2 linked regions of the Homo sapiens genome follow. The protein of the gene in region 2 purifies or fractionates together with the protein of the main gene of each other region. This does not show direct contact. Each region holds a gene or a part of one and is shown on either strand. Other genes may lie near its edges.

Region 1 (4,298 bases), on a different chromosome or scaffold from region 2:
TGTGTTTGGGGCCACCTTCTGGTCATCCCCAGGTCAGTTCTGTGGTCTCCACTGGTGACGTCTCTGGAAATCAGGACGCTTTTCCTAGCTCTGTGGAGTGCCCTGCAGGACACCCTGGTGGCCATGTTCGTCGGCAATGCCCACACTGGCCACCACCAGCACAAATGCATGATTCCCCATAGACATTGCTGCAAGGTGCTGCATATGTGTGAATGACTTCTATGTGATGGTATGCACAGGAGAGGAGCATATGGAATTGGAATTTGCAGATCAAATACTCAACAGTGATCCCCATGGGTTTTGATGTGTAATTTTCCAGAGAGATTTGCTTGTGTGAGGCAGAGCTGGAGGGGCCACAGGAGTCACTCTGTAGGGGTGAAGGAGCCTCACTCTGCCTAACACAAGCATGTCCCTCTGGAAAATTACACATCAAAACCCATGGGGATCACTGTTGAGTGTTTTTTGTTTTTTGTTTTTTGTTTTTTTTGAGACGGAGTCTCACTCTGTTGCCCAGGCTGGAGTGCAATGGTGCAATCTCCGCTCACTGCAACCTCTGCCCCACTGGTTCAAACGATATTCCTGCCACAGCCTCCTGAGTAGCTGGGATTATAGGCACATGCCACCACGCCTGGCTAATTTTTGTATTTTAGTAGAGACTGGGTTTCACCATGTTGGCCAGGCTGGTCTCAAACTCCTGACTTCAGGATACATCCACCTCGGCCTCCCAAAGTGCTAGGATTACAGGCATGAGCCACTGTGCCCAATCTTACAGTTGAGTGTTTGATCTGCAAATTCCAAGGGTATGCTCCTCTCCTGCGTGTACCTTCACAAGGCACTCCTTTACTCCGTATACATTTGCACTTCTTGACTTCTTTTTTGAACCAGTTACAACATCTGCCTATTTCTCTCTTTAATGAATAAAATAAAATATTTATCACTTTTATATCTGTATAAAAGTCACGATTTCACCTTTGGCTGAAAATTATCTTTTAACAATGTAATCAAACATTCCCTTTCTAACACTGGCAGTCAGACAGGTAAGAGAGGTGATAAAGTATGGTGAGGGTGTGGTTTTCCTGATTTCACGCCCTAAGGATTCAAATAACTCACAAGTCAGACTTCCAGGCACAACGCAGTTCTCCAACAGAAATAGAGAAAACAGATTTTGACAAGCAAAAGGGACTGGTGCAGTTGGGATTATAACAAGCAGGGAAGTCTAGGAATACATCTCCAGCCTCCTGGGAGAGCCTGAGCCCGGAGGGGGCAGAGAGGAGGAGGAGGGAGGTCTGGGGGAAGAGAGGTCTGCAAAGTAGGGGAAGGGAAGGCCAGGAGGGAGGGAGGCGCAGCGGGGAGGAGAGGAGAGAAGGGAGGAATACATTTCTGGAAGCTTTAGAAATTTAGAAATAGAAACCACGTGGAAGTGCATCCAGGGCTCAGGGTTACAGAGGACCCCAAGACAACACAGGAAAGTGGGGTCTAATGGGAAAGGCAGGAGGTTTCTCCTTTACTGCTTAAACATTGTAGGAACTTGCATGGCAAGTGATTTTCAATCTTGCAGCAGGGAAGGCAGGGCCAGTACTTATCCTTAGATGATTCTACAAACATCAAACTTCTCCAAATATTTATTTTTCAGCAGCCATGCTTGTATTTTCCAAGTGTCTATGGTCGAGATAGCATGAATTAGGAAGCTACCTGGATGAGCCCACAATGGCCCTCTTAGACATGCCAACGACGCCCCTGCAGAATCTGCTTTTTCTCTGGCTGTTCCTAGGCCTGGATAGGGTTCCCAGGCCTGGACAGGATTCCCCGGATACCGGCGAGGCTCATTACTAACCACTTTATTTTAAATGGGCTTTGAAAACAACAGGTGGCATCTTCCATCAGCAAGTGGACATAAATCTCAGTGCCCAGTGTTTCCAAGGCCTGCCCGACCCACATGGCTGTGGGGTGTAAACTGTCCAGTCGTTCCTGGCACACCTACCCAGCATTTAGGATGTCCCACTCTTAGATCCATAGACCCAGCACCTCTCTTCTTAATACCCACCCTAAAGAAAAGCTGTCGAATGTGGATGCTGATTTAGTTGCAAATATGCTCAGTTTTTTAATAGTTTTATATTAGTAAAAACGCTACAACCAGAATGTCTCACTGCAGGAAGAGAGTTACAAGGAGTATTTAACGGCATGGTGGAAAGGCTCCTCCGTGCTAAATGGCCAAAACGAACGCAAGTTTGCATACGGTGTGATTTCCACTATGTCTTTAAAATGCATGGCGAAACACCTACAGGAAAATACCAAAATGTAAACAGCGGCTGCTTCGGACGCATGGGATCGTGGAGGCTGCTGTTCTGCAAGGACAACGTATCACTTTTATGAAAGTCAGCTTCTGAAAACGGACTATGGGAAGTTCCTTACCCGTGCACGCGGCAAAGACCTTCTTTGCCATAGTCAGAACACACGCGGGAGTTCAGAGGAGCGGGGCCCGGGCTTGTGTGGGCTTGTGTGCCCCGGGGACGCGCACGTACCTTGTCCCGCGGCCTGAGACTGCGCTGCACCGCGCGGAGGCCGAACCCAGAGGAGGCGGCGTGGCGCCGGGCGGGGACGCGAGAGGGACGTGGACGCGGCGACCGAGGACGCGGGGATCCTGCGGGACCAGTGGCTCCAGTCGTAGCCTCCTGGGAGAGCCAAGCCCGGAGGGGGCGGAGAGGTGGAGGAGGGAGGCCTGGGGGAAGAGAAATCTGCAAAGTCGGGGAAGGGAAGGAAGGCCAGGAGGGAGGGAGGCGCAGTGGGGAGGAGACGAGAGAAGGGAGGGAGGGAAGTGTGAGGGGAGGGGAAGAAGTGGGGTGGTCGGAGGGTGGGGTAGGGAGGAAGAGGGAGGGAGAGATGGGAGAGGCTCCAAGATAAAGAAAGGTGCAGGGAGAGGGGGTGGGAGGGAGGGAACCGCAGAGAGGAAGGGAGAAGAGAATCAGGCAGCCTTGAGGGAGGAGGCAGGGAGGCCAGGAGAAGGAAGACAGCCAGCCTTCTGTGAGATTTACGTGCGTGCCTGGCTTCCAAGACAAGTAACTTCTGTTGTAAATACAAATTAAGCTATTTTTTGTTTATTTTATTTTATTTTATTTTATTTTATTTTATTTTATTTTAGAGATAGGGTCTTATTCTGTCACCCAGGCTGGAGTGCAGTGACACAATCATAGATCACTGGAGCCTCGAACTCCTGGCTTCAAGTGATCCTCCCCTTCAGCCTCCCAAAGTGCTGGGATTACAGGTGTGAGCCACCATGCCCAGCCACAATTTTTTTTTTTTTTTTTTTTTTTTTTGAGATGGAGTCTAACCCTGTTGCCGAGGCTGGAGTGCAGTGGCACGATCTCAACCTCAACCTCACTGCAACCTCCACCTCCCGGATTCAAGTGATTCTCCTGCCTCAGCTTCCCCAGTAGCTGGGATTATAGGCACGCGCCACCACGCCCAGCTAATTTTTGTGTTTTCAATAGAGACGGAGTTTTACCGTGTTGGCCAGGCTGGTCTCGAACTCCTGACCTCAAGTGTTCCACCTGCTTCGGCCTCCCAAACTGCCGAGATTACAGGCGTGAGCCGCCGCACCCGGCCCCAGCCCCAAATTAAGCCTTTTTTTAAAAAAGAAATTAATACACGTTTCATACTTGCCTCCTTCGTATTTTCTCTGGTCATCTGCCCAAGGTTATGACAACAGCTTCAACTTGGCTGCAGAAGCACACCCCTGTGGCTCACTCAAACTGGAAACATACAGGAAAAGGGAATTCTAGGAATATAGCTCAGCCTGGACAAATGGGCACATTAAAAAGCCATTGCACCGTGGTGGCCGCACTTCCTGCCATCCCCACTGCAAAGGTGTTGTTATGGACTGAATGTTTGTGTCCCCTCCAAAATTTGTACGTTGAAATCCTAACCACCCCGCCCATGGTGGTATTTGGAGGCGGGGCCTTTGGGAGATGCTTAGGTCATGAGGGTGGAGCCCCCAAGAATGGGATTTGTGCCGTTACAAAAAGAGGCAAGGGAGCTTGCTTCCTCATCTGTATGCCAGGAAGAGGATACTCACCAAGAACCCAATCCTGCTGGCCCATCCCAGACTTCCAACTTCCAGAACTATAAGAAATAAATGTTGTTTAAGCTACCCAAGTCTATCTATGATGTTTTTGTTGTTGTTGTTGCTGTTGCTGTTTTTGAGACAGAGTCTCGCTGTGTCGCCCAGGCTGGAGTGCAGTGGTCCCATCTCGGCTCTCTGCAACCTCCGCCTCTCGGGTTCAAGCAATTCTCCTGCCTCA
Region 2 (3,500 bases):
CCAGTTACTTGGAAGACTGAGGCAGAAGGATTGTTTGAGCTTGGGAAGTCAAGGCTGCAGTAAGCTATGATCATGCCACTGCACTCCAGCTTGGGTGACAGACAGGGTGAGACTCTGTCTCAAAAAAAAAAATAGATAAATAAAAAGAAAAAGAAAAAGAGAAAAGAAGAACTCTTACAGCTCAAGAACAAAAAGACAAAAAGACAACTCAATTCAAAAATGGGCAAAGAACTTGAGTAGACATTTCTCTGAAGATAATATACAAATAAGCAACAAACACATAAGATGCTCAATGCCATCAGTCATTAGGGAAATGCAAATCAAAACCACAATGTGGTATTGCTTCACACCTGCCACAGTGACCCCAATGATAATAATCAAAAAATGGAGGTCGGGCGCAGTGGCTCATGCCAGTAATCCCAGCACTTTGGGAAGCCGAGGCAGGCGGATCACTTGAGGTCAGTAGTTCAAGACCAGCCTGGCCAACATGGTGAAACCCCGTCTCTACTAAAAATACAAAAAAATTAGCCGGGCGTGGTTGTGGCCCACACATGTAATCCCAGCTACTTGGGAGGCTGAGTCAGAATTGCCTGAACCCAGGAGGCAGAGGTTGCAGTAAGCCGAGATCACACCACTGCACTCCAGCCTGGGTGACAGAGCAAGATTCCCCCTGCCCCCCAAAAAAATACATAAAAATAAAATGATGAAAATGGTCAATTTCATGTTATGTGTATTTTACCCCAATTTAAAAAATACTTTTCTGCATTCAGTCAATGCTCCTTGAATATCTACTGTGTGCATAGGGAAGTGTGCTATGCATTTAAGACACAAGAATAAATGTGATGGATGTGATGGCTGCTTCCAGGCAATTATGGATTGGGAAGAAATCCAGCAAACAGTGATGGACCCAAGAAATCTAGGATGTGATGGACCCAGGAAGAATAGGATGTGGCAGACCCAGGAAGTCTAGGATGTGGATGACAGGAGTTGGGAGGAGGAGAAATGGTTTTCCTGGCTGGAGGTGGGGGAGGGTCGGGGAAGACTACCTGTAAAAGACGCAATGTGAGATAGCTTTTGAAGGAGGAGGAAAACTTGCCCTTGGAGAGTCAATCTTATTATTGAAGGGATGTGTAATTAGAGGCCACATGATGCCATCCCATCCCTGCAACGGGCAAGACAGTTTAATGTGTGGAGTGTCTAGAGAAAGCAAGGATGGTTAGACCCCAGGGAGGAAGAGCTATAGCACAGACCCCCTCAGAATGCTCTCCCAGGCTTTCTGTTAAAAGCTCCTGCAGCAGAGTGGTCATGGTGGATCAGAGGGCAAAGTGAAGAAGTGAGGACAACTGATTCAGCCTGCTAAGCATTCTTGGGGCCTCAGGAGCCCCCACTGTCCTTTCTGAGGCTTTTGTCTTCTGCATCCTGGCAAGGAGCAGGCAAGCAGAGAAAAAGGCAGGAGAGACCAGGGCTCGTGTTAATTAAGCACCTACTAAGTACTGGGGGTCGGAACACATGGTTTTATGTAATCCTCACAGCGGCCCAATGAGAGAGGTTCTACTATTGCCTCCTCCTTCTACCTTTTTTTTTTTTTTTGGCTTTCATGTTTTTTCCTTTGCCTTTTAGCTATTTTAAAGTTAGAGAAATGAGGCACTGAGAGTTAAAGTGGCTGGCCTGAGGTCATCACGTGGGTGGAAGCCTGATTCAGGTGAGGTCAGTCTGACACCAGGATCCCTCTAGGTGCTCAGAGAAGGAATTTCCCCACAGTAAGGAAGGAGGCTTGGCCTGCTGAGATGAGCCTCAGATTCCTGTCTCTTGGCCCCGTAACTATCAGCAAACTCAAAGCTGAATTTCACCACTGGCAACTTCTGGTGTTAGCAAGTCTCTCAACCTCTGTGGGTTGTGCTCTATTCATTTTAATTTTTATCTTATGATTAATTATTTACAGTGTCCCTTTGTTGCCCAGGTTGGAGTGCAGTGGCTCACTCACAACTCACTGCAGCCTCAAACTCCTGGGCTCAAGTGATTCTGCCGCCTCAGCCTCCCAAAGTGCTGGGATCGCAGACGTGAGACAAGGTGGCCAGCCCACTTTGCTCATTTTTAATGCATGGGAAGCTGGCGGAGATTTATTTTCTTCTTCTTCCCCCAGGAATATGTTCTCATACATACATACTATCTAGGTCCTTTTAATTCCCCACTTCCCTAACTATCCATGTTCATGCATATTTACATTTAAAAAAAAATAGGATCATACTGGCTATGTTGATTCTGTGACTTTATCTTTTTCACTAAATAATATGACTCAGGAACCTTTCAAGGTCAGGAATGTGGATCCACCTCATTCATCTAAAATCTACTCATTCTCCCACATGAATGCATATACTGTAATCCCTTCCCATACCAGTGTTGCAAGCTCTGCCATGGACATTTTTATGTTATGTCAGTGCAAGTGTGAGCATTTCTGTGTGAGATTTTTCAAAGTGGGATTGCTGGACCAAAGAGCATGCCATTGAAGTTTCGAAAGACCCTGATAACTAATCTGAAGAAGGCCCAGAACTCAGTTGTTTCTCAAACAATTTCTGGCATGGATGTTTCTCTGATGCCTGGTGGAGAAGCGGGTGATGGTCTTAGACAAGTCTTTTAACCTTTGTGAGGCTTAGTTTGCTTATCTGTAGAGTGAGAAACAGTGTCATAGACACAACAGTGCTTTGGAGATGATAAGGTCCTGTGTAGGTTGGGTGCTGTGGCTTATTCCTGTAACTCACACTTGTAACCCCAGCGCTTTGGTTGTAACTCACACTTGTAACCCCAGTGCTTTGGGAAGCCAAGGCGGGAGGATCGCTTAAGCCTAGGAGTTAGAGACCACCCGACTCTGTCTCTACTAAAGAGAAAAACAAAAACCAGACAAGAAAGTCTTGTGTAAATGTGAGAAATTAAAAATTGTTATTAATATTGGAAGGCTCCACAGCTAGACACATCTCCTTCTCCTCATTACACAGAAACCAAAACGAGGAGCTTGTGCAAGAAAGAAGCTGTTTTTGGTTTTTATTTTGTTTTTTTTTGGAGACAGTGTCTCACTCTGTCACCCAGGCTGGAATGCAGTGGTGTGATCATGGCTCACTGCAGCTTCGACCTCCCCGGGCTCAAGCAATCCCCCCACCTCAGCCTCCCAGGTTGCTAGGACTACAGGCGCATGCCACCATGACCAGCTGATTTTTTTTTTCCTGTATTTTACAGAGATGGGGTTTTGCCATGTTGCCCACGCTGGTCTCAAACTCCTGGGCTCAAGCCATCCACCCGCCTCAGCTAGGAAGCTGTTTTATATTAAGTATCAACTATGTTTAAGGCCATGTATTAGACCAGCAGTTCTCAATAGCGAAGGAAAAGGATGATTTTGCTCCCCAGGGCACATCTGGCAATGTCTGCAGACATTTCTGATGGACATGACTCATGGGGTAGGGAGTGTCACTGGCATCTAGTGGGTAGAGACCAGAGGCGCTGCTGAA

The links. The genes of interacting proteins can lie anywhere in the genome.
Region 1: the proteins of ABAT (region 2) and CMBL fractionate together in Homo sapiens (co-fractionation; one large-scale study listed by BioGRID). This does not show direct contact.

The regions. Positions count from the first base shown.
Region 1 is NC_000005.10:10,305,103-10,309,400, forward strand, and holds the start of CMBL (carboxymethylenebutenolidase homolog), read right to left. Parts: upstream 2,801-4,298; 5' UTR 2,523-2,800; exon of another isoform or gene 2,413-2,522; intron 1-2,412. UniProt on the Homo sapiens protein: Cysteine hydrolase. Can convert the prodrug olmesartan medoxomil into its pharmacologically active metabolite olmerstatan, an angiotensin receptor blocker, in liver and intestine. May also activate beta-lactam antibiotics faropenem medoxomil and lenampicillin.
Region 2 is NC_000016.10:8,677,617-8,681,116, reverse strand, and holds part of ABAT (4-aminobutyrate aminotransferase, mitochondrial isoform 1 precursor), read right to left. Parts: intron 1-3,500. UniProt on the Homo sapiens protein: Catalyzes the conversion of gamma-aminobutyrate and L-beta-aminoisobutyrate to succinate semialdehyde and methylmalonate semialdehyde, respectively. Can also convert delta-aminovalerate and beta-alanine.